4 separate regions of the Homo sapiens genome follow, and all the other regions are linked to region 1. The links come from fine-mapping of genetic effects on gene expression. A gene starts in region 1. Each other region holds a variant in brackets. All regions are shown on one strand. Distances are from middle to middle. Region 1 holds the start of CAPN3 (calpain 3). Region 2 overlaps ZNF106 (zinc finger protein 106). Region 3 overlaps STARD9 (StAR related lipid transfer domain containing 9). Region 4 holds the start of VPS39 (VPS39 subunit of HOPS complex).

What was found. PIP is the estimated chance that this variant, and not a neighbour inherited with it, causes the effect.
Region 2: its variant is fine-mapped to the expression of CAPN3 in whole blood (TOPMed, PIP 0.97).
Region 3: its variant is fine-mapped to the expression of CAPN3 in thyroid (GTEx, PIP 0.97).
Region 4: its variant is fine-mapped to the expression of CAPN3 in blood mononuclear cells (TOPMed, PIP above 0.99).

What each region holds. Positions count from the first base shown.
Region 1 is chr15:42,355,901-42,364,007 of GRCh38, forward strand. It overlaps CAPN3 (calpain 3), which reads left to right and starts at 3,601. Exons shown (of 24, transcript NM_000070.3): 1 at 3,601-4,214. The coding sequence starts at 3,906. RefSeq lists enhancers at 4,009-4,509, 7,556-8,107.
Region 2 is chr15:42,433,941-42,442,047 of GRCh38, forward strand. It overlaps ZNF106 (zinc finger protein 106), which reads right to left. Exons shown (of 22, transcript NM_001366845.3): 11 at 5,093-5,873; 12 at 4,672-4,727; 13 at 3,292-3,437; 14 at 1,444-1,578. Among named protein-coding and RNA genes, the nearest start is that of ZNF106, 53 kb to the right of the region's middle. The variant T/C (reference allele first, on the strand shown) is at 4,012.
Region 3 is chr15:42,629,424-42,637,530 of GRCh38, forward strand. It overlaps STARD9 (StAR related lipid transfer domain containing 9), which reads left to right. Exons shown (of 33, transcript NM_020759.3): 4 at 5,433-5,549. Among named protein-coding and RNA genes, the nearest start is that of STARD9, 58 kb to the left of the region's middle. The variant G/A (reference allele first, on the strand shown) is at 3,454.
Region 4 is chr15:42,207,668-42,215,774 of GRCh38, forward strand. VPS39 (VPS39 subunit of HOPS complex) reads right to left here and starts at 637. Exons shown (of 25, transcript NM_015289.5): 1 at 414-637. The coding sequence starts at 486. It overlaps TMEM87A (transmembrane protein 87A), which reads right to left. Exons shown (of 20, transcript NM_015497.5): 20 at 2,780-4,082. The coding sequence ends at 4,041. It overlaps VPS39-DT (VPS39 divergent transcript), which reads left to right and starts at 734. Exons shown (of 3, transcript XR_932181.3): 1 at 734-1,017; 2 at 1,097-1,250. The variant C/T (reference allele first, on the strand shown) is at 3,813.

The DNA.
Region 1 (8,107 bases):
ATGCCTGTAATCTCAGCTGTTCAGGAGACTGAGGCAGGAGAATCGCTTGAACCCGGGAGGCGGAAGTTGCAGTGAGCTAAGATTGCACCAGTGCACTCCAGCCTGGTGACAGAGAGAGACTCCATCTAAAAAAAAAAAAAGAGAGATAATCTCTAAAATTTTGTGAGTTTTCTGATACTTAACTGTCAAAATACAGCAGATATCTCAAGTTTCCTCAGTTGTAAAATGGACTTAGTGAAACTTGCAGAGTTTTTCTACAAATTTAAAATATCTTATGTGTACAGAAAGGGAAAAATAGTAACATTACCAGGGAGAAACCCAGTAAACATCACTTTAGGCAAGTGATCAAAGTTGACATCACCTGTAATAAAACCTATCAATATCATGTGCCCCCAAATATGGTTTGAGGAGGTAGCCATGTCACATCTGTGACAGTCTTCCCCTAAATCCATAACCTCAGTCTAATCATGTGAAAAATATCAGAGAAACCCAAATTTAGGGTCATTCTACAAAAACCTGACAAGTACTCTTCAAAAGTGTCACGGTCATGAGAGACAAAGACTGTGGAATGATCAGAGACTGGAGGACACTATCTTTGCAACTCTTTTGTAAGTCTTTGCAAGTCTTTTGTAAGTCTAAAATTATTTTAAAATAAAAAGTTTTTTAAAGGTCTCTGTGAAGTGGCTAGCTCCCAGTAGGCACTTAATGAATGAGAGGTATTATAATGATAAGCAAAGACATTGCTTCCAATAGTGTTAGTAATCAAAGAAATGCTTCTTGGTGGAAAAGACAGAGCCATTAGTTGGCAATGCTGTGCAGCAGAAACCATTCCAGCCACAGATATTACATGACCGTGGGTGAAATATGTTATAAAAACTAGTTCTTTATCCTTGAAGGGGCTTCTGGGAATTGAAATGTGCAGTTGTTTATGTGTTCATTATCTGCCCTTTGTTCATGGGCTCGAGTTGGACTTCTCCCTGATAGCATTGGTTTCCACAGCTGTGCCATTGAATAAACCTTGAGTTTGGACCTGTTCATCTGAGAGAATGTTTTATCCACAACAACTGACAGAGCAAAATGAATGGCACCTTGCCCTTTCTGTGTTTGATATGCCCACCCTGCTCTGACAAGAGGCTCGCTGGTGTCACACACTTCTGTTAGTTACTCACAGATGGTGCTGGCTGAGACAGCTGAGGAAAGAAAGCTCAGTGGGTATGCGGCCCAAGACAGCTCCTTCGCCTGGAGCAGATCAGCAGAGAAACTTTGATTGCACTGGCAAAGCCAGAAGTGTAAGAAATTTCTCTTTGCATAGGAAAATTTCATTCACCAGATATATAACACGCATTTATTAAGGGCCTTCTAAACCTGAGAGGGAAATGGGAACCCACTTCCCAGCTCCACGGTCTTATGGGCAAACGGGAAGTTAAATAAGCAAAAACAATACAGTGTGGGTCAGTGCTCTGAATTTCAGGGTGGGATAGAATGCTAGGCTGGGACCCAAACTTATGACAGTGGGGGAAAGAAACCCCACCTTTGCTGTCTATGCCACTGGTGACTTTGAGGGTGGAAGTCAGTCTTTTTGTTGCAGGCAGATAGGCCAGCTTCTGATTGGAGATGCTGCATACCACATGAGCCTGGGCAGATTATACCTATTCCTGTGCTGTCCACATAGCAGATATTCAGTTAATGCCCATTGAGTGGATGCTGATTTGCGTCAGCGAGTAAATGTAGCATTCGACCTGATCTAACTCCAAAGTAATATTAAATTCAGGTCTTCTCTAACAACACCATTTATTGAGTGCTTAAGAAAATCCTGGCACTGTGTAAAATGTATTACATAAATTATTTAATTGTTACCAAAACCTAATAACAGAATGACTGTAATTGTACCTATTTTATAGGTGAGAAATCTGAGACAGAAAGGAAGAAATAACTCACCTAAAGTTACACAGGCACAGCCAATAAGGGGCCAACCTAGACTTTGAACCGAGGTGGTCAGTCACCAGAGACCACTGTCCTCTATTCTGCCTCTCCAAGACTAGTAAAAAGCCCTGGGCATTTTCTTGGAGGGACAGATGGCTAGGCTGATGGTTCCTGCAAGCCCAGACATAGAGTCCTTCAAAGCCGCAATCCCAGGGATCAGGAGGCTGATAGTACTCCCTATTTTACCTGTCACTTCCCACCTTCTTCCATAGCCTCTAATCTTGGATTATTGAGACTGGTCGCATGGGAACAGGCATGACTGCAGCCTAGGACATGCCTCCACTCTGCCATACTTGAAATGTGCTCATCTCCTTACAGCCCAGGGAGCAGCTATTGTGGGTAGAAGACAAGGTGGAGGCCAGGCAGGCACTTCCCTTCCCCAGAGCCACTTATGCTCTCATCTAAGAGCCCTGAAACCAGGTGTGACATCCCAGGAGTTGACAGACAGTCTGGTTCAGTATCTAATTCCAACTTCTGTCTCAGATGCCTAATGTGGCATGGCTGAATGAGTCAACATATAACCTGTACAGTAAGTCCTCACTTAACATCATTGATAGGTGCTTGTAAACTGTGACTTTAACGAAAACATACCGTGTGCTGTAGGGACTTAACTCTTGTTTATATCAGTTAGCCTGGTTTCACTATACAGTACATCATTTTGCTTAAAGTCACAGCTTACGAGAACCTATCGATGATGTTAAGTGAGGATTTTCTCTGCTCAGGTGCACTTTTTTTTTTTTTTAAGACGGAGTCTCTTTCTGTCACCTGGGCTGGAGTGCAGTGGCGTGATCTGGGTTCACTACAACCTCTGCCTCCTGGGTTCAAGCAATTCTTCTGTCTCAGCCTCCCAAGTAGCTGGGATTACAGGCACCCGCCGCCACACCCGGCTTATTTTTGTATTTTTAGTAGAGACAGGGTTTCACTATTGTTGGCCATGCTGGTCTCGAACTCCTGACCTCATGTGATCCACCCGCCTCGGCCTCCCAAAGTGCAGAGATTAGAGACGTGAGCCACATGGCCCAGCAGGACCACTTTTTAGCAGATTCAGTCCCAGTGTTCATTTTGTGGATGGGGAGAGACAAGAGGTGGCAAGGTCAAGTGTGCAGGTAGAGACAGGGATTTTCTCAAATGAGGACTCTGCTGAGTAGCATTTTCCATGCAGACATTTCCAATGAGCGCTGACCCAAGAACATTCTAAAAAAGATACCAAATCTAACATTGAATAATGTTCTGATATCCTAAAATTTTAGGACTAAAAATCATGTTCTCTAAAATTCACAGAATATTTTTGTAGAATTCAGTACCTCCCGTTCACCCTAACTAGCTTTTTTGCAATATTGTTTTCCATTCATTTGATGGCCAGTAGTTGGGTGGTCTGTATAACTGCCTACTCAATAACATGTCAGCAGTTCTCAGCTTCTTTCCAGTGTTCACCTTACTCAGATACTCCCTTTTCATTTTCTGGCAACACCAGCACTTCATGGCAACAGAAATGTCCCTAGCCAGGTTCTCTCTCTACCATGCAGTCTCTCTTGCTCTCATACTCACAGTGTTTCTTCACATCTATTTTTAGTTTTCCTGGCTCAAGCATCTTCAGGCCACTGAAACACAACCCTCACTCTCTTTCTCTCTCCCTCTGGCATGCATGCTGCTGGTAGGAGACCCCCAAGTCAACATTGCTTCAGAAATCCTTTAGCACTCATTTCTCAGGAGAACTTATGGCTTCAGAATCACAGCTCGGTTTTTAAGATGGACATAACCTGTACGACCTTCTGATGGGCTTTCAACTTTGAACTGGATGTGGACACTTTTCTCTCAGATGACAGAATTACTCCAACTTCCCCTTTGCAGTTGCTTCCTTTCCTTGAAGGTAGCTGTATCTTATTTTCTTTAAAAAGCTTTTTCTTCCAAAGCCACTTGCCATGCCGACCGTCATTAGCGCATCTGTGGCTCCAAGGACAGCGGCTGAGCCCCGGTCCCCAGGGCCAGTTCCTCACCCGGCCCAGAGCAAGGCCACTGAGGCTGGGGGTGGAAACCCAAGTGGCATCTATTCAGCCATCATCAGCCGCAATTTTCCTATTATCGGAGTGAAAGAGAAGACATTCGAGCAACTTCACAAGAAATGTCTAGAAAAGAAAGTTCTTTATGTGGACCCTGAGTTCCCACCGGATGAGACCTCTCTCTTTTATAGCCAGAAGTTCCCCATCCAGTTCGTCTGGAAGAGACCTCCGGTGAGTAGCTTCCTGCTTGCTGGCTGGGTTTTCCCCCCACGGAGGAGTCCTCTCACTCAGCACCTCCGGCAGCTCAGCTGTGCACATGGGCACTGGGGGAAGGATCCTGGCAGCAGCTCTGCTGGGCTCTGTCTTTAAGTGTGAAGCAGGGAGGAGAGGAACAGGTCTCAGATATTTCACCAAATCTCAGCAAAATCCAGAGGGAGAGCGCAGGAGGTGGGGCTGATTCTTATGCTCTGGCTCTTTCTCTCTGAAAAAAAAAAAAAAATCTTGCTTTTTATAAAAGTGGGTGGAACTCAGTTTAATTCATCCTGTAAAAATAAATATTCCTTTCTCAGAACAAATTCCAGACAGCCCAGATGTACCTGTTCGTTTTAAATATTATTCATCTTTGTAAGATTATTTCAGTTTCTCTGGCTAAAATCATGATGTTATTCTTCTTTAATTTACCAATGGCCATATCTTTCTGAAACACAGAAACCCTAGAAAGAGAAGAGTCATAGGCAAGGAATATTTTTTCATGCATAAAATGTTGGGGTTAAAGAGAGAGAGACCTAGCAATCGCTTTTGTCCACCTACCTCACCTCATAAGTGAGGAGTCAAGGCACACTAGAGTGAAATATATCTAGTGGGCACATGACAGAGCCCGGATTAAAACTTTCTGTTTTAGGAAACTCTCCCAGCCTCTGGGTTTCATTTACAGTGATCGCCAGGAGGGAAATCACATTCCCCTGGCTCACCTCTCTGATCATCCCTCCAGTGTGACTCTTGTTCTTAATTCGAGAAATATTTATTGAGCATCTACTAGTGCCAGCACTGGGCAAGCAACTGGGGGGACAGCAGTGAGTAAGAAAGACCAAAATTCCAGCTGTCTTGGAACCTAGGGTCCTGAAGGGAAGATGGGCATTGAACAAGAGTGACATTGTCAGGAGACGATGTTCTGGGTGCCACAGGATCATGTGGCAAGGAGAGCTAACCTGGTCCAGGGAGACAAACCCTCTCTGAGGAAATGATGACAAGCTGAGACCCAATACTATTGATTAGCCATGGTTTTCTTTAACCTAAGGTGGGCCAGGCATGGTGGCTCATGCCTATAAACCCAGCATTTTGGAAGGCCCAGGCTGGAGGATTGCTTGAGCCCAAGAGTTAGAGACCAGCCTGGGCAACAGGGTGAAAACCTATCTCTTTTGTACTAAAAATTCAAAAAATTATCCAGGCATGGTGGCACATGCCTGTGGTCCTAGCTACTCAGAGGCTGAGGTGGGAAGATCACTTGAACTCGGGGAGTTGAGGCAGCAGTGAGCCGAGATCATGCCACTGCACTCCAGGCTGGGTGACAGGAGTGAGACCCAGTCTCAAACAACAACAATAACAACAACAAACCTGAGGTGGAGTACTAGACAACCCTGTATATTCCATAGGGGCTCTTCTTGGTTCTATGGTAAGGCCCATAACTGTCCTGAAGGCCTTCAGTTTAGAAGATAACACTACTCTGCTATCAGAGTAGTTGGACATGTCACAACCCCCTGCTGAAATATCTTCAGTGACATCCCTCTCTCGGCCCCCACTGCCTTCAGGACAAGTCCAAACTCCTTAGCCAAGCCATAGGCCCTTCTCAGCTGGTCCCTGCCTACCTGTCCAGGCCCATGTCCATCCTCTTTCCCCAGATCCTGACACACCAGCAGTGCTTGGACATTTAGCTGCTCTGTAGTTCCAAGTCTTCTCACACCGGAGGCCTTTGCTCATGCTGTCTGTCTGCCTGACATGCCTTTTTTGTTCCTATCTGAACCTCTGCTCAGGTGTCACTTCCTTCAATCTTTCTCATGACTGATTTCCTCTCACTGAGAGCAGAAATCCTTCCTGTTCATCTTTGAGGCCCCCTCACCAAGCTCAGGCCAGTCCCATAGTGGGTACTCAGCTGATGCTGGTGAGTGAAAACCCACGCCCAAGGGCCTTGACCAGTGAGACAGGATAGGCCTGCGTTCCCAGGCAGGGAGTTCCTAAAAGCCCTTTCTTGGGCCAGACATGGAGGCTCATGCCTGTAATCCTAGCACTTTGGGAGGCAGAGGTGGGAGCATCAATTGAGCTCAGGAGTTGGAGACCAGCCTGGGCAACATAGTGAGACCCTATCTCTATAAAAAAAGTTTAAAAAAATAAAAGCTCTTTCTCAGAATGGGGAAAATTAAAACCTACAAATACTGTTTTCAGTGAAATCATTGGTGGACTTGAGTCTTCAAGCGAGACTTACAAATTAATAAAAATTCTTTAAGGGCCTGTTATGCTCTAGGTACTAGATTGGGCAGTGTCCATGTTTGAAATGAGGGGTGCAGAAGACTTGTCTGTTCTAAATTGTGCCCCCACCACCACCATCACCAACAACAAAGATCCTGGATTTTCCACTGTTTGAGTCACTAAAGGACCAGATAACAAAGGCCACTCTTGGATAAAATGCCCACATGTTCCCCTGGGGTTAAGATCACAGGAACACTGCCCATTGGGTTCACTAGCATAAATGAGAAATATAAAATTAGAGATGGTCAGAGTTGGAATGATTCTTGGAGAGGTGCTCCAGTGTCCTTGCTTTATAGGTGATTAAGGCCCAGAAAGGGCAAATGACTTATCTACAGCCACACAAGTTGACTTGGAACTGAAAAACTGAAATGACTCCAGAACTTTCTGACTGTAAAGCACTTCTTGGAGACATCAGTTCTCCATAAACTTCTTCAGATGTAGTGACCTTTGCCAGCCCTATGCAGTCTGAAAAGACTGTGTCCTATCAGGAGAAGCACCACACAGGTGAGTAAAGGCCTTCCTGCTTTTACTGTCTAAGGCACAGAACCTTTGGAAACCAATCTGAATTTTTTTTCGACCATCAAGTATTATTTATTATAATTACAGTGATAATGATAATAATGATAAAGGGAGAATTATTCCTGGCCAACTATAATTCTAGTTAAAATAGCATGCTGCACTTTCAGCCTTTCCCTCTTAAAAGAAAACAGGCTCTGGCCGACTGTTCCCAGCTCACCTGTAATCTCTTCTCTTACTCACCAGTGCTACCTCACAGACTTTCTTCCTCTACTCGGGAACATCATGCATTGAGTTTCCAGGGCAAACAATCTGGTTCCTCTAGACTTTCCTTATATGATCTATTTCTAGGATCAGAAAGCAAACAAATTATTCAACACTTCTCAACTGTTAAGGCAAGTTTTCTTGATGACAGATCCCAGGGCAGAATAGAATGGGTTCTAGAACAGGGCTTCTGGGATGCTGGTGCCCAATATACTAGGGATAGGTTGGGGATGGGAGGGCAGGTCGTGTTTCATTCCATGGGGTGGAAGGTTCAATTGCACCACACTCCTGGCCTGTCTCCTTCCCATGGTGGGTTTGTAAAGAGAACTTGACCTGTAAAGCCCAGTTCTTGGCTTCTGTCTTTCTCTGGGAAGCAAGCTGCCTGCAAGAAGCATGGCTTCTGCTCTCTGCCCTCCTTGCAGTAAGTTTTCTGGAGGCAAGTCCCCATGGGGAGTCATGCAGGAGTCCCTGGGCCACCTGGTAATGTGTGGTTAACAGTAAAGATAATCGCTAATCTTGAGTGAGAACTCACCACATGCCAGTAACTAAATGCTTTCCATATGTTAATTCATTTAATCTTCACAACAATCCTGTGAGGAAGTACCATTATTGTCCCACTTTACAAAGGAGGGAACTGAGTCTCAGAGGGATTAAATAACTCGCGCCAGATCTCCCAGTTAGTGAGGGTTGGAGCTGGGATTTAAACCCACACAATCTGGCTCTAGAGCCCCAAATCTATCTAATTCTGAGATTTAGATGTCAATATCCATTTTTATTAAACAATAAATGTGGGATTTTGGACTCCCACCTGCCCTGCACTT
Region 2 (8,107 bases), 78 kb after region 1:
TGGGCTCAAGTGATCCTCCCACCTCAGCCTCCCAAACAGCTAGGACTATAGGTGTGCATCACCACACCCAGCTGATTTTTATTTTTTATAGAGACAGGGTCTTGCTATGTTGCCCAGGTTGGTCTTGAGCTCCTGGCCTCAAGCAATCCTCCTGCTCTGGCCTCCCAAAGTGCTGGGATTACAGACATGAACCATAGTACCTCGCCTAGAAATGTAAATTTGGGAGCTTGATCACAAGCCTACTGGATCAGAAACTCTGGCAAGGGCTGCATGTGGTGGCTCACGCCTGTAATCTCAGCACTTTGGGAGGCCAAGGTGGGAGGACTGCCTGACCTCAGGAGTTCAAAACCAGCCTGAGCAACATGGTGAGACCCTGTACCTTAAAAAACAAAAAACAAACAAACAAAAAAAACACCTCTGGGAGTGGGGACCAGTAATATGTGTTTTAACAAGCTGTCCAGGTCACTGTGATGCACACTAAAGTTGTGAGCCAGTGCCTCTAGGGATTATATTTTTAAAATTATAACAAGCTAGTTCAAATTAATACTTATTCCCAGTAAAATATAAGATCCTTGTCCTAGCACAGCTCCATTCCCTCCCCCTTCTTTATGTTCCTGTTATCACATATATTCCACCTATGTTATAAACTTAATGATAGTCATAAATTCTGCTTCACATACCTCCATCTTTTAAAGAAATTAAAAACATATTGTATATAATTTTAAATGTAATTTTCTCATGTCTTTCAGTGCATTTAGGTTTAAAAAACTCTCAGAGGAGATGTCCATTTCTAATTCTGCAGATTTAAAAAGTTTATACATTTTGCTCTTTTTTTTTTTTTTTTTTTCCTGAGACGGAGCTTCGCTCTTGTTGCCAAGGCTGGAGTGCAGTGGCACAATCTCGGCTCACTGCAACCTCCACCTCCTGGGTTCAAGTGATTCTCCTGCCTCAGCCTCCCAAGTAGCTGCAATTACAGGCATGCACCACCATGCCTGGCTAATTTTGTATTTTTAGTAGAGACAGGGTTTCTCCATGTTGGTCAGGCTGGTCTCAAACTCCCAACCTCAGGTGAATCCACCCGCCTCTGCCTCCCAAAGTGCTGGGATTAGAGGCGTGAGCCACTGAGCCCGGCCTACATTTTTCTCTTTATTCTATCTAGGATTAGTTTTGACATATGATATGCATAACATTTATGGCAAAGACCAAGGAAGGTATATTATTAATAGTAGGAAGTGAAAAAATACTGGTGGAGAGAGACAGAAAATATGGTTTATGTGTAAGTCTCATATCTACCTAGGGCTACAACAATGTGCTAAACATTGTTTAGAAGCAAAAAGGAGATGGTGGGTAGAATGAAGCGTCTGCCACAGTGTCTCCACTCCACACAGTAAATACAAAGGCGACTCAATATGAACCACTTTGGATTTCTCTGGACCCACCTACCTTAACATTATAGCAGCGGATGGTATGGTCACTGGACCCGGTGTAAAGGGCAGCATTCTTCCCGGAGGTCTGAGTAACCAGGAGGCAGTTAACTTTGGAGGTATGACCCTCAAAGACACCAATACATTTCCGACTCTAAAGTTTAAGCACAGACCAGATTATTACTTATGAGATATAGGAGGATTAGATAATATATTTCCTCAACAAAAAGATGCTAAAACATTCAGTTCACTGCTGTATCCTCATGTCTAAAACAGCACCTGGTACACAAAAGATGCTCAGTAAATGTATGTTCACCAAGTGCCTAGCAAACAGTCACAGGCAATGAGGTATCTGAAAGTATATGTTAGTTGAGCCATACCAGAAAATACTTATGGCAACACTGTAAGACAGCCAGAATTTTAATTAACGTTTAGGGCAAAGCTTTCTGACATATGGACCAAGGACCTAGCAAATCCAAACTGCAGCTAATTTCCCACAAAAGATGAGCATTTGATAAGCAGTTTGTGAGAATGCACCATGGTATTCAAAAACGTCAGGTGCTATCACAGGTCTAGTGGTTCTGGTGTTGTTTCTTTTTTTTTTTTTTTGACAGAGTCTCGCTCTGTCCCCCAGGCTGGAGTGCAGTGGCGCGATCTCAGCTCACTGCAAGCTCTGCCTCCTGGGTTCACACCATTCTCCTGCCTCAGCCTCCCAAGTAGCTGGGACTACAGGTGCCCGCCACCACCCCCGGCTAATTTTTTGTATTTTTAGTAGAGATGGGGTTTCACCATGTTAGCCAGGATGGTCTCAATCTCCTGACCTCATGATCCACCCACCTTGGCCTCCCAAACTGCTGGGATTATAGGTGTGAGCCACTGTGCCCGGCCACTGGTGGTGTTTCTTATGGGTACATTCCAAATGTTATCTCAGTGCACATACTGAGATCTATTTAGAATGTACATATATACATACACATACATATTTTGATATCCTGTTCCCCTAGATCTTACACTTATACATCCTGGTAGCACTGCTTCCTTTTTTCAGTCATTCGTGTTAATCCTCATATCATTAAGCTAAAGGAATCTACACACCTGTTGCCTATATAGCAAACACATTTTCCTGGTCCATCATCTAACTTTTTAATTTTCACTGACTCTAGCAATTTTAAATATTTTCATGGTATTCATTCAGACATCATGTTCTTCAAATTTCTTAAGCTTTCATTGTTCATAAACATAATTAGTTTATTAACAAATTCAAATTCAAAACTCAAAAGTTCATTCTTTTGAGAGTAATAAGCATCAGATAATACTAAGTGTGAGGCAGTGGAAAAGTGTTGCTCTCCTTAATAACTTGAACTCTGTAATCAATCACTTGTCAGGGAAAATACCTCCTCCAGTACTTCCCCATATTCACTTCATCCCTCCTCTATTATGTAGCTGCTATGCAAGTGACCCCATTACCAACTCCAGCATTGGGACCTGAACAGTCCAAGACCACTGGTGTAATCCCAACCCCCTTTGCCACAGGCAAAGGTGATCGTTCAGGGAGTAAAACACAGGACCCTTCTGTGCTGGTGGGAGGGAAAAAGAGACTCCAGTGGCTCCTGACATTTACCCTGTAAGCAGGAGGGGAACTAGCTTTCAGGAAGAGGTGATACCAGAGAAGGCAGAGTAGGGAGACAAAAAGAAATTAAGTCCCCAGTGACCTTGCTGAGCTTCTGGATTAAATGCATCTAAAGTCAATCTCAGGCCCACCCCTTCCTTCAGACAGCCAACAAATTCCCTTTATTGTTTAAAAAAGTATAAACTGGATTTTCCAAAACCTGCAACCAAAAACATTCTACATGTTCTATCAACTTACCACCAGATTATAAACCCGAACAGTTTTATCTGCTGAACAGGTATATAGCAAGTTCCCAAATATCTGAATTGCATTTACGGCAGCTTGGTGTCCCTCAAAGCTTCCTTCTGTGGGTTCATCATCATCTCCTGGCTCTGAAGATATTTCTGGAAAACAAGAATAGGTTTCAGAGACATGTCTGCTAGAGTCTGAAAAGATACTCAAAAATCAGAACTATTATACAATACAGTAGTCCCTAGATTAAACCAAAAGTAGATCCCTTAAATCTTAGTTCCCCTATCAGACTACTACAATTTTCAATACCCATCTTCACTATGAAGACTGCATGATAAGCAAAGGCAGAGAAGGCCTTTCACTTAGGAAAAAGATAGATAATTATATAATGAGCTTTTGGGCCAGGCGTGGTGACTCACACCTGTAATCCCAGCACTTTGGGAGGCCAAAATGGACGGATCACCTGAGGTCAGGAGTTGGAGACCAGCCTAGCCAACATGGTGAAACCCCATCTCTACTAAAAATACAAACATTAGCCAGGTGTGGTAGCGTGAGCCTGTAGTCCCAGTTATTTGGGGAGGCTGAGGCAAGAGAATCACTTGAACCCAGAGGCAGAGGTTGCAGTGAGCCAAGATCACACCACTGGACTCCAGCCTGGGCGACAACGACTCCGTCTCAAAAAAAAAAAAAAAAAGAAAAAGAGCTTTGAGTGATACTTGGAAGGTA[T/C]CCAATCTCTCCCACACTTCCAAAAAGTTATTTCTTTGAGTAATGTAGTATTCCTTAAGCAGTTCCTTCTGAAAGCAAATATCCTTAGAGCCAATGAAACCTTAATACTAATTAGTTGAACAGATAAGGGAGCCGGATAAGACAGATGAGAAAGGCCAGGCATGGTGGCTCACGCCTGTAGTCCCAGCACTTTGGGAGGACAAGGCAGGAGGATCACTTGAGGCCAGGAGTTCGAGACCAGCCTGGCCAACATGACGAAACCCTGTCTCTACTAAAAATACAAAAAAAAATTTGCCAGGCGTGATGGCGCGCACCTGTGGTCCCAGCTATTTGGGAGGCTGAGGCAGGAGAACTGCTTGAACCTGGGAGGTGGAAGTTGCAGTGAGTAGAGATAGCGCCACTGCACTCCAGCCCAGGTGACAGAGCAAGACTCTGTTACAACCAGTCAATCAATCAGATAGATGAGAATAAGAATCTGAAAGACCAGGATTTGAGGTTTTAAGAATATCAGAACTGTTGATCAAGGCAATCCTCTTGGTGATAAACCCCTCCCCATTCTCCTATTCTATAAATATATTTAAGTAGGTTTAAATCCTGGCTTTAATATTTACAAGGCTTTTAATTCTGTGGTTAACTTAAATAAAACTGAACAGCAAATACCTGAAGAATTCTTTGATCCTTTTATGGAGGAGATCACAGTCTGAGTTTCTGCCACACTACAAAATAATAGCAAAAGTGTTCTCAGCATCTGTGTGAACAGGGCAGGTAGTAAAAGTAAAAATTTCTGACTCAAAGGATTTTTCTAAACAATGGGCAAAGTAGCAATGATATAAGAGATTAGATTTTCCATCTGAAATTTCTTAATGAAGGGAAATAAAAGCAGAGTGAATATTTATAACACAGTCAAAAGAGAAAGCAGAAAATCTCTACTGCTGAGCTTTAATTTTTCCATATCCACAATCTCTACTGCATTCACATAAAGTTTGGTTTTTAAAGAAATTCTGATTCATAATTTCAAATTCTATTTAAAAAAATAAAGTTGGTGAAAGTTGTTCTGACTGGACCAATACAATATTCTTACCTTACAGGGATGCCATCTTTATAGCGAGTGCCAATTTCACTGGTAGAGCTAACTTCATCACACCCAGAACGAGACGTTTCTAGTGGGTTTTGCTCTGTAGAGTTCCAAATATCCTTTTTAGATGGGCTGTCTGGTTTCTCTTCTCCTGATTCTGAAGAATCAATGGCTACTACTTCTAACTGAGGATTAGGAATTTCTAGGACTTCCAGAGACGAGTCACTATCTGGCTCATCTCTGACACTCTCCTGCTCCCGACCAGTCCTGCTGTCTTCCCAAGTGGAGGTTGTTACTTTCCCCCCTTTAATTAACTTTCCAGCTTTTACTTTCCTTACAGGTTTAACAGTCAAAACATCCTGTTCAGTGTCACTATTCTCAGGAACATGGGCAGCCCGTAGACTTTTCTTCTTCCGGAGTTTCTTCTTTTTCTTGCTTCCCCTAGTCTCAGCTGATGTCAAAGTGGATTCTGCCTGTTGTTCAGGCTGGTCAGCTGGAGAGTGGGGTTCCTTCTCCAAAGGGGTTTCTGAAGCAAAAGACAATCTTAGAAAAGAACTGGTACAGGCTTCAGACCCACTATTGCCTTTGGTTGGCTCTTCCCCTTCTTTATTTATGCTAGAAAGACCAGCTGATTGGGAAGAGGGAGAGTTTTCTCTGTTTCTGGTATTTCTTTGCTCCACAGAAAACTTCAGTTCTTGGCTAGGCTCATGGAAACTTTCTGTTGACTCTGGTAAGGACAATCTAGCAGTGATGACTGGATAAACTGGACAACTGTCACTGATCTCTCCTGAATTGAGAGGAAAAAAATTATTGCATCCTTTTTTGTGTTTGCTGCAATTTATCACTGACTGAAACTCTACCAAATATTTCAATGATATGTTCAGAAAACCATGACTGTTTCAGCTGGTATCTCACCCCTCAGTTTCCCATCACCTACATACACTCCTATGACAACACTTACTACCCTCTGCCTTGCGTGAATCTCACAAACACTGTGTGTCTTATTCCCTACAAAAGCTCCTTGTGGGGAGGGATTGTTTCTATCAATCTTTTTTCTTGTTTTAAATGTCCACACATTTAACATTGTGGTTTATTCTTAGTAGACACTTAAATGTCTACTTAGCTGAAGTCCTTTTACTTTTATTTCTTTGAAGTTTTCATTATCCACACCCATCCAATTTAGCTACAGCTTAGTAGTTAAAAAAATTTGCTGACTTAGAAATGTCAATTTCCTTTGACTTAGTTACTTCATGTCTAGGAATTAAAAGTGATGAAATAATCACAGATGTACTCAAAGACATATACAATGCAGTGTTACACAGAATATGAAAAAAGTTAGAAAACTAAATATTCAAAAAAGATTCACCACATAAATTATTGTTTAGCCAGATTATGCAACTATTCAAATATTATGCAACTTGTAATATAAAATACTTTAGATAAATTATTTTTACAACAGAAAAATCATTATATATTAAATGGAAAAAGTCAGGTTATATATGACTGCTCCTTTGTACAAGTTCTACATGTAAACACAAAAATATGATTTAAGAAAGATTGAAATAATATGTAATACGAAAAATAATAGTACCAAAATATTTCATGTAATCCATAAATATATACACCTACTATGTACCCACAAAAATTTAAAATAATTTTTAAAAATATGCTAGGGGCTGGGCAAGGTGGCTCATGTCTGTAATCCCAGCACTTTGGAAGGCTGAGGCGGTCGGATCACTTGAGGTCAGGAGTTCAAGACCAGCTTGGCCAACATGGTGAAAGCCTGTCTCTATTAAAAATACATAAATTAGCTGGGCATGGTGGTGGGCGCCTGTAATCCCAGCTATTCGGGAGGCTGAGACAGGACAATCACTTGAACCTGGGAGGCAGAGGTTGCCGTGAGCCAAGAGCATGCCATTGCACACCAGCCTGGGCAACAAAAAGCGAAACTCTGTCTAAAAAAAAAAAAAAAATATATATATATATATATATATATATATATATATATATATATATATATATGCTAAGTCACGCGCAGTGGCTCACACCTGTAATCTGAGCACTTTGGGAGGCCAAGGCGGGTGGATCACTTGAGCCCAGGAGATCAAGACCAGCCTGGGCAACATGGTGAATCCCCATCTCTACTTAAAAAAAAAAAAAAAAAAAATTAGCCGGGCATGGTGGCAGGCATCTGTAGTCCTAGCTCCTCTGGAGGATGAGGTGGGAGGATCAACTGAGCCCAGGAGGTCAAGCCTGTGGTGAGCTGTGATTATGCCACCATACTCCAGCCTGAGTGTCAGAGTGAGACTCTGTCTCAATAAATAAATAAGCTATATATTTGATACTAACATCTAGATTAATATTGCAACATAGTACTGGTAGTAAAATCTAGAGTAATTTTTTAAACTTTTTGCTTTTGCTCAGGAAACCACACAATGCCAGTTTGTTGGACTTAATTTTCAAATACAGCACCACTGTGGTAATGCAAACTTCTAACAGGATTTTACATAGCTTAGACGTATTCTCAAATGATAACCAGGTAAGTGTTATTTTTTGAAAAGAGTGAAAACCCTGGCTATTTCTCAACAGCAAGTTCTTAGTAGATGATTCCAAACCCCATCATGGCCACCTGCCTCTCACGCTTATATTAATCCTGGTTTGTATTTGAGATTATATAGACAGTAAGTGCAAAGAAATTCAGAGGATAGACCTTATTCAGAAAATTGGCTGAATTAACTTCAACCCCATTTATTTCACACGAAACAAATTTTGTACTTATCCTAATAAATGGAACCTTGTGGGTGCTAATACAAAGTCAACTCTAACCCTAGATTAGAGGAAATGAAAGAAAATGACTGATATTTAAATTACATTCTCTAAAATATTTTAAAAGAATCCTCCTGTATATATGAAGAGAATTCCAGTGACAAATTAGTTGTACTTGCTCATTTTAGTTTTAATGAGCAAGTATGGCTTATATCACTCATATAAAAATGCCCCAGTCTCACTACTGGGATGCCC
Region 3 (8,107 bases), 270 kb after region 1:
TGTTCTCTGTTAACATATAGAAATGCTACTGATTTTTGTATGTTGATTTTGTATCTTGCAAGTTTACTGAATTTGTTTATGAGTTCTAACAGGTTTTTGGTGGAGTCTTTAGGTTTTCCCAAATATATCATCTGCAAACAGGGATAATTTGACTTCTTCCTTTCCAATTTGAATGCTTTTTCTTTCTTTCTCTTGTCCGATTGCTCTAGCTAGGACTTCTACATTGAATAACCGTGGTGAAAATGGGCATTGTTGTCTTATTCCAGATCCTAGAGGGAAAGGCTTTCAGTTTTTTCCTGTTCAGTCTGATACTAGCTGTGGATCCCTTCTTGTATATGGCTTTTATTGTGTTGAGGTATGTTCCTTGTGTACCCAGTTTCTCAAGGGTTTTTTTTTCTCATAAAAAGGATGTTGAATTTTATCAAATGCTTTTTCAACAATAGTTTAAATGATCATATGGTTTTTGTCCTTCATTCTGTTGACATGATGTATCACATTCATTGATTTGCATATGTTGAGTCATCCTTGCATCCCTAGGATAAATTCCACTTGGTCACGATAAATGATCTTTTTTTTCTTTTTTTTTTTTTTTTTTTGTGAGACTGAGTCTCACTCTGTCGCCCAGGCTGGAGTGCAGTGGTGCAATCTTGGCTTACCGCAACCTCCATCTTCTGGGTTCAAGTGATTCTCCTGCCTCAGCCTCCCAAGTAGCTGGGACTACAGGTGCGTGCCACTACACTCAGCTAATTTTTTGTATTTTTAGTAGAGACCAGGTTTCACCACGTTAGCCAGGATAGTCTCGATCTCCTGACCTTGTGATCTCCCTGCCTCGGGCTCCCAAAGTGCTGAGATTACAGGTATGAACCACCACGCCCAGCCTGAATGATCTTTTTCACATGTTGTTGAATTTGGTTTGCTGGTATTTTGTTGAAGATTTTTGCATCAATGTTCATCAGGGATATTAGCCTGTAATTTTCTTTTTTTGATGTATCTTTATGTGGTTTTGGTATCAGGGTAATACTGGCCTTAAAAGATGAGTTTGCAAGTATTCCCTTTTTCATTTTTTTGGAGTAGTTTTAGTAGGATTGGTATTAGTTCTTTAAATGTTTGGTAAAATTCAGCAGTGAAGCTGTCAGGTTCTGGGGTTTTCTTTGCTGGGAGATTTTTATTACAGCTTCATTACTTGTTACTGTTCTATTCAGGTTTTGGATTTCGTCATGGTTCAATTTTGGTAGATTGCATGTGTCTAGGAATTTATCCATTTCTTTCTAGGTTTTCCAATTTATTGGTATATAGTCATAGTAGTCTCTAATGGGACTTTGGATTTCTGCAGTGTCAGTTGTAATGCTTCCTTTTTCATTTCTGATTTTATTTATGTGAGTCTTCTCTTTTTTTCTTCATCTGTCTAAAGGCTTATCGATTTTATCTTTTCAAAATACCAACTTTTCATTTTTATTGATCTTTTGTATTGCTTTTTTCATTTCAATTTCATTTATTTCTGCTCTAAGTTTTTTTCTTCTGCTCATTTTGTGTTTGATTCGCTCTTACTTTTCTAGCTCTTTTTTTTTTTTAATTAAAAAAATAGAAATGGAGTCTTACTATATTGCAAGAGTTTATAGAGCTTGAGCCCAGGCTAGTCTTGAACTCCTGGGCTCAAGTGATCTTCTTGCCTTGGCCTCCCAAAGTGCTGGGATTACAGACATGGACCACCATGCCTGGCCACTTTTCTAGTTTTTAAGATGCATTATTAGGTTATTTGAAGTTTTTCTACTTTTTTGATATAGATGCTTATTGCTGTAAACTTTTCTCTTAGTAGTACTTACACTGTATCCCATTTGTTTCTTCTGTTTCCGTATCCATTTGTTTCAAGAAATTTAGGCCAGGCATGGGGCTTACACCTGTAGTCCTAGTACTTTGTGACGCCAAGTTGGGCAGACTGCCTGAGCTCAGGAGTTCAAGACCAGCCTGGGAAACATGGTGAAACCCTGTCTCTACTAAAATACAAAAAAAACCAGGCGTGGTGGTGTGCGCCGGTAGTCTCAGCTACTTGGGATACCAGGGCATGAGAATTGCTTGAACTCGGGAGGGAGAAGTTGCAGTGAGCTGAGATGACGCCATTGTACTCTAGTCTGGGTGACAGAGCGAGATTCCGTCTCCAAAAAAAAAAAAGAAATTTTAAAATTTTCTTCTTATTTTGTTCAGTGGCCTAGTGGTCATTCAGGAGCATGTTGTTTAATTTCCATGTGTGTGTATGGTTTCCAAAATTCCTCTTGTTATTGATTTCTAATTTTATTCCATTGTGGTAATAGAAGATAGTTGATATGATTTCAGCTTTTTGGAATTGTTTTATTATTTATTTTTATTTATTTTTTCCTTAACCCACCTTTCAGGAAGATTTTTTTTTTAAATTATTTAAGATGTGTTTTGTGGCCGAACATATGGTCTATTCTTGAGAATGATCCATGTGCTGAGGAGAAGAATGTGTATTCTGCAGCCATTGGATGAAATGTTCTGTAAATATCTATTAGTTCCATTTGGTTTACAGTGCAGATTAAGTCCAACATTTCTTTGTTGATTTTCTGTCTGAATGATCTTTCCAATGCTGAAAGTGGGGTGTTGAAGTCTCCAGCTATTACGGTATTGAGGTCTCTCTCTCTTTAGCTCTAATAATATTTGCTTTATATATATCTGGGTGATCCAGTGTTGGGTACATATATATTTATAATTGTTACATCCTTTTGCTGAATTGACCCCTTTCTGATTATATAATGACCTTTGTCTCTTTTAAGTTTTTGTCTTGAAATCTATTTTTTCTGATACACATGTAGCTACTTCTCTTTTTTGGTTTCCATTTGCATGGGTTATCTTTTTCTCTCCCTTTGTTTTCAGTGTATATGTGTCTTTATAGGTGAAATGTGTTTCCTGTAGGCAGCAGATTGTTGGGTCTTGTTTTTTAAATCCATTTAACTCTGTCTTTTGATTGGAGAGTTTAGTCCCTTTACATTCAAAGTTATTATTGATGAGTAAGGACTTCTGCCATTTTGTTATTTGTTTTCTGGTTGTTTTGTGGTCTTTTCTTCCCTCTTTCTTTTCTTCCTGTCTTCCTGTTTTGTGAAGGTGATTTTCTCTGGTGACATGTTTTAATTTCTTTTTATTTTTTGTGTATCTTTTGTAGGTTTTTTGATTTGAGGTTACCATAAGGCTTGCAAATAACCCATTCGTTTAAACTGATGACAACTTAACACTGATTATTAAAACAAATAAACTAACAAAGAGAAAACTAATAAAAATGTCTGTAATCCTAGCTACTCAAGAGGCCGAGGCGAGATGATCCCTTGAGCCCAGGAGTTTGAAGCTGCAGTAAGCTATGACTGTGCCACTGCACTTCAGCCTAGCTGACAGGATAAGACCATGTCTCAAGAAAAAAATAAATAAAGAGCCAGACACAGTGGC[G/A]CACACCTGTAATCCCAGCACTTTGGGAGGCTGAAGTACGTGGATCACTTGAGTCCAGGAGTTCAGTACCAGTCTGGGCAACATGGGGAGACCTGTCTCTACAAAAATACAAAAAAATTAGCTGGGCATGGTGATGCACACCTGTAGTTCCAGCTGCTGGGGGGCCAAGGTAGGGAGATCGTTTGAGCCCAGGAGGTCAAGGCTGTGGTAAGCCAAGATTGTGCCACTGCACTCCAGCCTGGGGGACAGAGCAAGACCCTGTCTCAATTAAAAAAAAAAAAAAGAACAGGGAGTGTAGTCTTGAGTTAGCAGCTCCTTTGTCCCTAATTACGTGTATTACTTTGTTTAATCTTCACAACAAACCTGTATTACAGATACAAAAATAAACATTTTATACCTAAAGAAACTGAAGTTTACAAAGTTTAAGTAACTTGCCCAAGATCACACAGCTTTGAAGTATAAGAATACACTACACCTTGGAATCGTATCAGAGTTGTCACAGAATTGAAGGGAAAGTTGAAAAATGGGCAAGAAGGCATGGGATGCTAAGCAGCAGGGACCCCAGGCAGAACCATATCACAGAATCATCTGATTTGAGCACACACTTGGCACTTCTACCACTGTATGCCCAGCAGCAGTGCTATTGGATCCTTGATGCCAGCATGGACAATTTATTAACTATTCTTTATTTTTATGTCTTTCTTTCAAAATTCAAATGATAATCTAGTTGTCAAGTGACATCTAGTTGTCCGGCCCCGTTTCTTTCTTTCTTTTTTTTTTTTTTTGAGATGGAGTCTCACTCTGTCGCCTAGGCTGGAGGGCAGTGGCACGATCTCAGCTCATTGCACTTCCGCTTCCTGGGTTCAAGCGATTCTCCTGCCTCCGCTTCCCAAGTAGCTGGGATTATAGGTGCCCGCCACCATGCCTGGGTAATTTTTTGTATTTTTAGTAGAGACAGGGTTTCGCCATGTTGGCCAGGCCTGTCTCGAACTCCTGACCTCAGGTGATCCACCCACCTCATCCTCCCAAAGTGTTGGAATTACAGGCCTGAGCCACCGCGCCTGGCCCTGTCTGGCCTCATTTCATGTGCTAGTGTTGTCCTAGATGGAGAGGAATATCTGGCCTGTTTGGCTTCTATAGTAGAGCATTGAGCTGTGCTTCCCACCAAGACTGACACAACCAAAGATTCAAAGGAAGAGTATTTTGATGCTGGGCAACAATACAAAGGGTAAATATCCGCTGTACCAGCTGTGGGTATGCAGATGCCCACGTAGCATTCTGCTGAAGACTGGCTGAACTAGGAAGCTGTGCCTTCCCCATAAAGCTGGCTATTTTTTCCTGAGACCAGAGTCTGCCTAACAGAGCTCAGTAGGACTTCCAAGCAGTATACCAAGTACAGGAGTTTTCACATGAGGACCTCTGCCTATTTCTGATTCACTAAAGCAGGGGTAAATGACCAGCAGAACCAGCCAGCTCTTAGGGTCAATCTGAGGAGGGAGTGTGTAGAAAATAAATGCATGTGGAAAACACCTCCCTAACTTCTGGTCTTACTGATCTTCAGTATGGTATCCTAAGACCCTGAATTTGTATGTTATTGGGCAATATTTCACTGCAGCTTTACCTGATTAACCATATTAAATGTTTTCTTACGAGAGATACAGAATTATTTTGCTTGCATATCTTTGCTCTTCTACACTCTCTTTGCCTTAAGTTTAGAGACCATATTACTTTTGTATCTTATCTTCAGAGTCTAGTATTGTGTCTAGATACACTAGGCACTTAAAAAATTTGACCGGCTGAATGAATGAATTTTCCTTAGCTATCTTTTTATGAAGCTAAATTGATTCTTATGAAATGGTAGTGAATTAATAGTCATGTATGTTTGAAATATTTTATATTTTTTTAGATTAGAAAATAATTCTAAATCTGCTATGAGAAGAAGGACCACAGTGATATTTCCTCTGCTTTTGTTGTTACAGGTTTTCCAGGATTTAGGGATGGAAGTACTGTCTGGAGTTGCCAAAGGCTATAACATATGCCTTTTTGCTTATGGACAGACAGGCTCTGGGAAGACATATACCATGCTGGGGACCCCAGTGAGTATTACAATGATATATATTCCTAATGCCACAGCAAGCCTGAACCTTGCATTGTCCTTACTACTGTGAGACAGAATATGATTTCTGTAGGCAGTCAACTTTAAAGAAGATTGAATGAGCCTTCTTCTGTTTTAAGAATGAGTTTTTCGGCTGGGCGCAGTGGCTCACGCCTGTAATCCCAGCACTTTGGGAGGACAAGGTGGGAACCCGGGAGGCGGAGCTTGCTGTGAACTGAGATCGTGCCATTGCACTCCAGCCTGGGCAACAAGAGCAAAACTCCATCTCAAAAAAAAAAAAAAATGAGTTTTTCAGCATTTAATTGGAAGGTAACCTTTGAATAATTAACCCTTATTTATTTATTTATATATTTTTGAGACGCAGTCTTGCTCTGTCGCCGAGGCTGGAGTGCAGTGGCGCAATTTCAGTTCACTGCAAGCTCCGCCTCCCGGGTTCACGCTATTCTCCTGCCTCAGCCTCCAGAGTAGCTGGGACTACAGGCACCCGCCACCACGCTTGGCTAAGTTTTTGTATTTTTAGTAGAGACGGGGTTTCACCGTGTTAGCCAGGATGGTCTCAATCTCCTCATCTCGTGATCTGCCCGCCTCGGCCTCCCAAAGTGCTGGGATTACAGGCATGAGCCACCATGCCCGGCCTTAACCCCTCTTTATTAAACCCTGAAGAGCCTTAGAATTTTACAGCTCCCTTTGACAAAGCAGTTCTTGTCAGTCCTGCTGAATTTCTACTTATCTCCAGGTTCATTATTTGGATCTGTTTTGCACCTTTGTTGTGGACAAGACCTGGACTAAATCTTAAGTGCATGCTAGAGCTGTGCAGAGATTTGATTATTGTGGCCAAGCTCCAAGCCTACATGTGTTAGATCTGTGTGTTGGAAGAAAGCAGGAGAACTAGCTCCTGAGTCAGGGGCTTTCAAAAGTATGCAGGATTTAATGAGAGGCTTCCTTTATCACAGAAAATCAGGAGGGCAGAGTTGCTTAAGAATACCTTTTTGTTTTGGGTTTAGAAATATCCTGGTCAGGGTGCCAGGTGTAGTAGCTCACACCTATAATCTCAACACTTTGGGGTGGCTGAGGCAGAAAGATCTCTTAAGCCCAGGAATTTGAGAACAGTCTAGGCAACATAGGGAGACTCCATCTCTACAAAAAATACAAAAGTTAGCTGGGTGTGGGGGCACATCCTGTGGTCCCAGCTACTTAGGAGGCTGAGGTGGGAGGATGGCTTCAGCCTGGGAGGTTGAGGCTGCAGTGATTAGCCATGATCTTGCCACTGTACTCCACCCTGGGCAACAGAGTAAGAGACCCTGTCTCAGCTGGGTGGGGTGGCTCATTCCTGTAATACCAGCACTTTGGGAGGCTGAGGCGGGCAGATCACAAGGTCAGGAGTTCGAGGCCAGCCTGGCCAATATGGTGAAACCAAGTCTTTACTAAAAATACAAAAATTAGCCAGACATGGTGGCGTGCGCCTGTAATCCCAGCTACTTGGGAGGCTGAGGCATGAGAATCGCTTGAACCCAGGAGGGAGAGGTTGCGGTGAGCTGAGATTGTGCCATTGCACTCCAGCCTGGGAAATGGGACGAGACTTTGTCTCAAAAAAATAAATAAAAAGAGACCCTGTCTCTAAAAGTATATATGTCCTGTTAGGTGGGTAACAAATAAACACTACACAGGGACATTCTATAGGACATGATTCCTCTTAGATGATTATCCCTGATGCCTTGGGCCTAGCTCATTGCTCGCTTTGTCCTGTGTTTAGTGTGATTTCATAGTATTTGACATTAAAAGAAGAATTGGGGCTGGGCATGTTGGCTCACACCTATAATCCCAGTACTTTGGGAGGCTAAGGCAGGCGGATCACCTGAGCTCAGGAGTTCAAGACCAGCCTGGCCAACGTGGTGAAACCCCATCTCTACTAAAAATACAAATTAGCCAGGTGTGGTGGTGGGTGCCTGTACTCCCATCTACTTGGGAAGCTGAGGCAGGAGAATTCCTTGAACTCGGGAGATGGAGGTTGCAGTGAGCCGAGATCATGCCATTGCACTCCAGCCTGGGCAACAAGAGTGAAACTCCATTTCAAAAAAATAATAATTAAAAAAAAAAAAAGAAATTGGCCACTAAACGAAAAGTATAAAGCCCTTAACCGAGTACAAGTTAGCACTGGATACAAGATGGGAAAAGAAACTACCTCTTTCTAAATGTGTTTTTTTGCTGTTGTTGTTTTTGTTGTTTTGTTTTGTTTTTGAGATGGGGTCTCACTCTGTTACCCAAGCTGGAGTGCAGTGGCACGATCTCAGCTCATTGCAGCCTCTGCCTCCTGGGTTCAAGTGATCCTCCCACCTTAGCCTCCCGATTAGCTGAGACCATAGGCACACGCCACCATGCCTGGCTAATTTTTTTGTATTTTTAGTAGAGACAGGGTCTCCGCAGGTTGCCCAGGCTTGTCTCTAACTCCTGAGCTCAAGTGATCCACCCACCTCGGCCTCCCAAAGTGCTGGGATTACAGGGGTGAGCCACCACACCTGGTCTAAATGTGTATTTTGA
Region 4 (8,107 bases), 150 kb before region 1:
GGGTTGACTTTCATCTAGAAAACAACACAAACATCTGGACAACTTCAAGCCCCTGGCAGGCTGAGAACTTCTTACTGCTTTGACCCTCTAAAATGAAGTCTTCGTGGGAATCAAAATGGGCCAAAGCTGAGCACAACTAAAAAGGAAAGCTCATCCTCCCACTCTGCACAGAGAGCAAAAGCAAGGGGAACTCCCCTAAATGACTGGATCACTGGGATCACCCAAGTAGCCCCACAGACATCGATGTCTATAGCCGGTGGTCATCTCTCTGCCTTCTCTCATCCTAAGCCCCTCTCGTGTAGCATCCAACCGAAGCCCACACGGATGGACGCCTGTCCACTTCCCCGGCCTCAGAAAAGATCCGGACCGCTCCTGTGCTGACTCCGCCTCGGCCCCGCGGCCCCTCGGCTCACCCCAGGCAGCCAGACAGTCGATTTGCAGAGGCAGCTTTTCTAGGATCGGCACTGGCTCGAAAGCGTCGTGCATGGCGGCAAGGGGAGAGTTGCCACCGCCGTCTCGCCCAGAGTGTTCCGGGCCGGGCTGGGGTCCGGAACGAGTCTGGGCTAAGGGTAGACCGGGATCCGGCCAGGAACCCCCCGGCTACAGGCCCTTCAACAACACAGCCATCGTCAACCCCGGACTTCCTGCTAGTTAGGCCCGCCTCTTCCGCAGCCGAAGTCCCGCCCCTTCCTCCCGGTGCACTCTAAATGAATTGTTTTGTTGCTGAGTTGCCATCGTCACTCTGGACCCATAGCTACTCCATCCCGAGTAGCCATGGGCTTACCATAGAAGGAACAAACTCTTAATCTTAGAACTGCTTTAGGCAGTGGGCGTGATGGTTAAAAACTCGGCCTTTGGCGTCGACCTCAGACGGAGATCTACCAATTAGGAAATTAGCTGTGATTTAGAAAATTTAATATTTCGATGCCATACTTTCCTAATCTGCAAAATTTTTGTAAATACCTGTGACCTAGTGTCGTGAGCGCTTAGCAACACCTGACACCCACTAAGCTCTCAGTAAGTGGTAGCTTTAGTATTACCATTATATCCCAATTAGTACAAGCACCTTACCTTAATGCTTTCATGGTTGTTCTAGGCCAGTGGTTCTGAAAGTGGTTCTAGACCAGCAACAACAGCAGTAGCAGCAGCACCTGTGAACTTGTTAGAAATGCAAAGTTTCAGGCCCATTCCAGTTCTACTGAATCTGAAACTCGAAGGGAACAGCAACCTATGTTTTAATAAACCCCAAGGTGAGTCCATGCACTTAAAAGCTTGAGAACCACCATTTTAGGTTAGGGTTGTTCAGCGATAGCACTACCGGCATTTAGGACAGGATAATTTCTTGTTGGGGGAGGGGGCATGTTCTGTACAATGTAAGATGTTTAACAGCATCCCTAACTTCCACCCACCAAATGCCAGTTATCTTCCCCACAGAGGTATAAAAATGTCTCTTTTCCGTATGTCCTCTGGGAGGCAAAATTACCCTGAGAACCACCATTTGAGGCCAATGCTTTTCAAATTTAACGTGCATACAAATCACCTAGAGACATTGTTAAAATGCCTCTTTTGATTCAGTAGGACCAGAGTAAGACCCTCAGTTGAGCACCAAAAATCTCCCAGATGTTGCTGGTCCCTGGATCACATTTTGAGTAGCAAGAGTTTAGGCAAGAGATGATTCACTAACTCTTGGAAGTCAGTGAAATAAGCCTCCTTTTAATTTGATGACCACATTCCTACCAATTCAACTTTCCAAAGCTGTGTCTTACATCCTAATATTCCTTTAGGAAGGTGTCATGGCTTTTCCTCCTATAGGACCTGGGACCTGTACTGTCTGCGGTTACCTTAGTATTCCCCTTGAAGACTTAAAAAACAACAAAGTTTGGGCTGCAAGAATGATCTATATCTGGTCATTTCCCCCTAGGAAAACATCGTAGGTCAAAAAATTAAGCATTTGGGTTTAAAGCAAAAATGTAAAAGAAAAAGGGTAAGTCTGTGATATGAAGTCAAAAAAACTGGTCCTGGTCATTTTATTTTTACACAATATCAGTTTCTTCATATGTAAATTAGGAATACTTGTCCCATCTTTACCAAATGCTGTTCTGATAATCAAGTGAAAAGTACTTTCAAGTAGTCAAAAACATGAAAATTGCTACACAAATCCTGTGTTATAGCTGATTTTCACCATAGAAGCTGATCACCTTCTTAAAAATTTAGAATTACCAGCTGTTGTGCTGGAAGGTCTAGTACCTTTTCGTTCAGGCCCAAAACCCTAAGGTTTATATTGTTTTACAGATTACTGCAAAGCTATCAATTTCTTCTGAACCTAAGAAATGACACACTATATCTATTCCCAGTAATACAGAAAGCTGTAAGTAGAATTATCAGGGCCCAGGCTATAGAACTTGAACTATACACTCCCGCTTAACACAATGGGCTTTTTTTTTTCCTAGTCTCAAGTCAACATCAAAGCAGCCTAAAAAAATAATTTGACCAACTATCCTGCTGCATTACAACTATTATTCATCTGCTACGTTTTAATATGCAATAGCAGCATGCAACAATACCACCAGCTTTTGGCTAATGACTTAGCATGAGAATATAGTCAGTTCTTCAGATTGCTGTTCCTCAGAGATACTTCCTAGGAAACTTTTTTAAAAATCACCATAGCAAAGAGTTGTAGAGAAACTACCTAAGGGTTAACACTTTCACTGCAGTATGAGTTAGTGAAGATTGTGGTCATGTGGTCATTGGTTTTAACAGAAAATAAGACAATCTAGAATAAAAGCCATAGAAAGAAATTTTTCATGAGTTTGACAGAAAGAGTCTTTAGAAAAAGTTTGAAAAAAATGAGAAAAATACATTAATTTTGTTAAATTTTTTTATATTAAAAAGTGGCATGAACTTTTTATGTAGAACAAAAATCTTGGGAAGGCAAAATTGGATAAAACCATTAAAACAGAAATAGAGTGCTTCAAATGAATCCCATCACCTTGTGATGTCCCTTATTAACAGTCTCTAAACCAATACCAGATACCAGAACAGTCCATCCTAAAGAACGAGCAGCAGTCCAGGGCCTCCACGCTACTTCATGCAATAACTGTTTAAATTAAGCCAGCAGGACCTGTTTCCTTTGTATAAGCTACAACTTCTGAAGCATTACAGTTCCTCTAGCACGGTGCTCAATCACAGCACTTGGAGCACCTCTCTGCATAAAGGCAAACAAAACATTGCCTAAGGACCCTGCAATGCCACCCTTGGAGGCTTACAAAACAGTAGTTAAAAGTTTCGGAGTGTGCACCACATTGCCAGCAATGGGATGTGTCACAATAGCAGATGTCAAAAGAGTTAAGCTAATATTTCTCTTTAAAGTACATCTGAAATAGAAAAATCTTTAATATACACCATTTGTAAACAAAATTGCACTTGATTTTGCTTTTTTAAATGATCTGAATCATACTGTAACAGTTTCTCTTTTTTTTTTTTTCTTTTGATCATTGATAGAACTATGGCTCCTTAACTCAGAAGGGCCCTTTTTTCTCAAAACAACCTCTGCAAGATGTAACCTTGACTTCCCAGGAAAATGAAAGGTAGTTAACAATTTCCCCCATCACCTATGTAACTCCCTAAATAAATAAAAATTACAGGCAGTTGCTCCTGGAGATTACATATTATGGTGTTGATGACAATCTTTTAGAAGACGTTAAACTTTTTAGTTTGTCAGATTTAAAAAATGAAACATTACAGAAAGTTCAGGAACAACACACTTAAGTTGCATGAACATCCATGTCAGAGTCTGGGAGGAAAGGGGGCAG[C/T]AGTGTTGTAAATAAGAAGCTCGTAGATTTTTCTCATCTTATGAACTTGTTTTCAGTAAGATGTTCTCTTTGTTCTGACACCTCTCGCCAACTCCAATGCCCAAAGATCAAGGAACAGATCAGGATGTCATTGCTTCCTTTAATCCCATGGAGCCGTACAGAAGACTGACACAGATGCTGATCTCTTCCCTGATGGTAGCCATCTTTAACTGCAAATCTTCCCATTCCTTACTCCATTTTGGACCTTTCAAAGTGTGTGATCATTCGTTCCTAGGGAAAAAAAAAAAGGTTGAAGTATATTAGGTTAAAATGATCTATATTCCAAATATCTTCTATACAGACTATCCAAGCAAACATCTTCCACGAGTACTTTATGTTAATTAAATGTTTAGAGAAATGGTTCCTAAACATTTGTGAAGATTTTGAACATACAGATGTCCAGACCTCACCCAAGAACAACTAAATCAAAAGCTCTAGGCTTCTGGACAGAAAATCAGCACTCAGAAGGAAATGTATAGAGTCAGCTAAGATCTTATGTAAACAAATATTTACATAAGATTAGGCTTTAATAAAAATGTGTAACTCCTCTAATTCAGGAATTTCACTTGAAGACCCAGTGAAGGATGAGGGCAAAGACGTGCACCTAGTTAGCACTTTGCACTTTAGAATGGTTAGGAGGGTTGATTTGTTATGTGTTTTTTACTACACTTTTTAAAAATCATGTAAAAAATAAAATTACATTTAATTTAATATAGTATTTACAGTATCCCATTTCAATTAAAATAATTAATGTACTACCCTTAAATTTCCCTTCTTAGGCAATTTTATACCTTAGAGTTAATTTTCATTTTTCTTTTGCTTCATTTGCGAAGTACCTCTCACTATTGTATCACAAACTGACAGAACTACAAATCCTTTTTGAATATAATCAATCACATCAGATAATCTATAGATGTTTCCCTTTTTCTTAAAAATATCCTTTCCGATGCTCTCTGTTCTCCACTCCATCCAAGCCTGGTGCCCAGCTGCCAACCTGAGAATTTCTTACATCATACTGGGAATTTTTCTTGTCTCTGTGTTGGACCCTTTATTTCCTAGATCCCAAGTCTTTTTCCTAGCTTCCTCATTTTTGTGGAGAACATTTTCCCCTACTTTCTTCAGAAACTGCATATAGAACATCAATTATTTTACTTCTTGTGTGACTAGAAACATCTTTATTTTACCCTCATAATGATAGTTTAGTTGAGTACAGAATTCTAGGTTGAAAATGATTTTCCTCAGAATTCAAAGGCTTTGTTCTGGCTCCCAAAGATGTTGTTGAAGAGCCTTATGCCATTTTGATTCCTGGTCCATCATGTAAATTGTTTCTCCTGTAATTCATTTAAGGTCTTTTTCAGTTTTAAGGGAAAAAAAGGCCTTGGAGAAAGTGATGTCAGCAAGATGACAGAATAGGAAGCCCTGGACACTCCTTCCCTCTACAGACACACTGATTCAATAACACATGGAAAAATTCCCTTTGTGGGAAATCCAGAAACCAGTTGAGGGTCTTCTGCACTATAGGAAAGCATGAAACCAGCTGAATCAAAGTCGGCAGAAAAACCTGAGGCACCCTCTTGCCATAATTCTTCCCTTCCCATGGACCCAGCACAGTACCACATGATAGAGAGGAAACCCTCAGCTCCCAGCTTCTTTTTGCAGAGGGAAGGAAATGACTGGAATGTACATCCAACATTCTGACTTTTCTGGAACCTGCACGAGAGACTGTTTTCTGTCTTGCCTGAGTCCGAGAGCTAAAAACAAAGGGCCCAGGTTGGAAGTTGCTGAAATCAAAGTGGAAGTTTGGACTAGCAAGCATGAGCTCACTACAGCCGCTCCCCCAGCTCAGTGCAGAGTAAGCAGGTAGAATCCCCAACATCCCCAAATCCTAGCTTTTCCCTAGGGAGGAGAGATGGACTGTGAAAATGTTCCAACTTTGTAAGAGGTTACCTGAGGGAATGGTTTCTGTAGGGAATGGTTTGAAGCACAGATGGGACCAGTATATTTTAGGTGCCTGGGGCCAGTATGAACAAAAAAAGAGCTGGGCTATGCCACTGGCTCCAGGAGACCCATGATACAGCAGATAAACACAAAAGGGAGCAAGAGATTATAAATTCCTGGGGAGGGAAAAACCCAGCAAATCCCTCTGATTGGGAATACATATGCAGAAGTCCAGAAAAGACATAATACAGAGTGGGTTAGAGAGGCTATCAGAATGATTGATGAGGGTGTTCTCCTGTACAATGCCAGTCCATGAACACTGGAAAGGTAACTGTTTTTTTTTCTAATGCAATGAAACCAACACAAAGAATTAAGGAAAATAGAGAATCAGTGAAACATGGCCCAAACAAAGGAAGAAGATAAATCTCTGGAAACCAACCCCAGTGAAACAGAGGTATAGGAATTATTTGAAAGAGAATGCAAAACAACTATCATGAAGATGTTCAACGAACTCAGGAGAACAATGCATGAACAAAGTAAGAATTTCAATAAAAATATACAAAACATTTTTAAAAATATGCCAAGAAACTGGATAACCTAGAACAAAATATATAATTCCTAGAAGTATACAATCTACCAAGACTGAATCATCAAGGAATAGAAAATCCGGGGGGGGAACACACAACCTGGTAAGACCTACAACAAGATTCCATCAGTAATCAAAAACATCCCAACAAAAAAACAGCCCAGGACCAGATGGCTTCTTTAGTTGAGTCCTACCAGGTACTTAAAGACAAAGTAACACTAATCCTTCTTAAACGCTTTCAAAAAAATTAAAGACGAAAACATTTATTTGGAAGGAACTTCCAAACTTATTCTATGAGGCCAGCATTACCCTAATGCCAAAGCCAAAGACATGACAAGAAGAGAAACGACAGGCCAATATCCCTGATGAGCAGACGCAAAAATCTTCAATGAAACAATGGAAAACAGAATTTAACGGCACGTTGAAAGAATCACATACTATGACCAAGTGGAACAAAATAGAAAGCCCAGAAATAAAACTACACATACATGGTCAACTGATCTTCGAAAAGAGAGACAACACTACACAGTGGGGAAACTGACAGTTTCCTCAACAAATGGTGCTGGAAAAACTAGATATTCACATGAGAAAGAATGAAAGTAACTCATCTTCACTATACACAAAAATCAACTCAAAATAGATTAAAGACTTAGACAAGTCAAAATAGATTAAAGAATTAGACATAAGATTTGAAACCACAAAACTCCTAGAAGACAACCTAAGTTTCTTGAAATTGGTCTTAGCAGTGATTTCTTGTCTAAGACACCAAAAGCACAAAACAAGAGCAAAACAGACCAATGGGACTACATCAAACTAAAAAGCTTCTGCACAGCAAGGGAAGCACACAACAGAATGAAAAGCAACCTACAGAATTGGAGAAAATATTTGCATACTACATACAGTCACGTATACTTAATGATAGGGATACATTCTGAGAACTGCATCATTAGGCAATTTCATAGCTGTGTGAACTTCACAGAATATACTTACACAAATCTAGATGTTATATAGCCTACTACATACCTCGGCTATATGTATAAGCCTATTGCTCTAGGCTAAAAACCTGTACAGCATGTTACTGTACTGAATACCAAAGGCAACTGGAATACAATGGTAAGTATTTGGGTATCTAAAGTTATCTAAACATTGAAAAGGTACAGTAAAAATTCAGTATTGGCCAGGTGCGGTGGCTCACGCCTGTAATCCCAGCATTTTGGGAGGCTGAGGTGGGTGGATCACAAGGTCAGGAGACCGAGACCATCCTGGCTAACACGGTGAAACCCCGTCTCTACTAAAAAAATGCAAAAAATTTGCCGGGCGTGGTGGCGGGCGCCTGTAGTCCCAGCTACTTGGGAGGCTGAGGCAGGAGAATGGCGTGAACCCGGAGGTTCTTATGGGACCACTGTCATATATGTGGTCCGTTGCTGACTGAAATGTGGCATAGGACTGTATCTGATCAGGGTTAATATCCAAAATATATAAGAAACCCCTACAATTCAACAGCAAAAAATCAACTAACTTGATTAAAAACTGGGCCAGGGACTGGAAGAGACATTTCTCAAAAGAGGGCTTCCAAATGGCTGACAGGTATATAAAAAAAATGCTCATCATCACTAATCATCAGAGAAATACAAACCAAAACCACAAGGTGTCACGTCACACCTGTTAGGATGGTCATTATCAAAAAACAAAAAATAACAAATGTGGGCAAAGAAAGAAATTGGAACCCCTG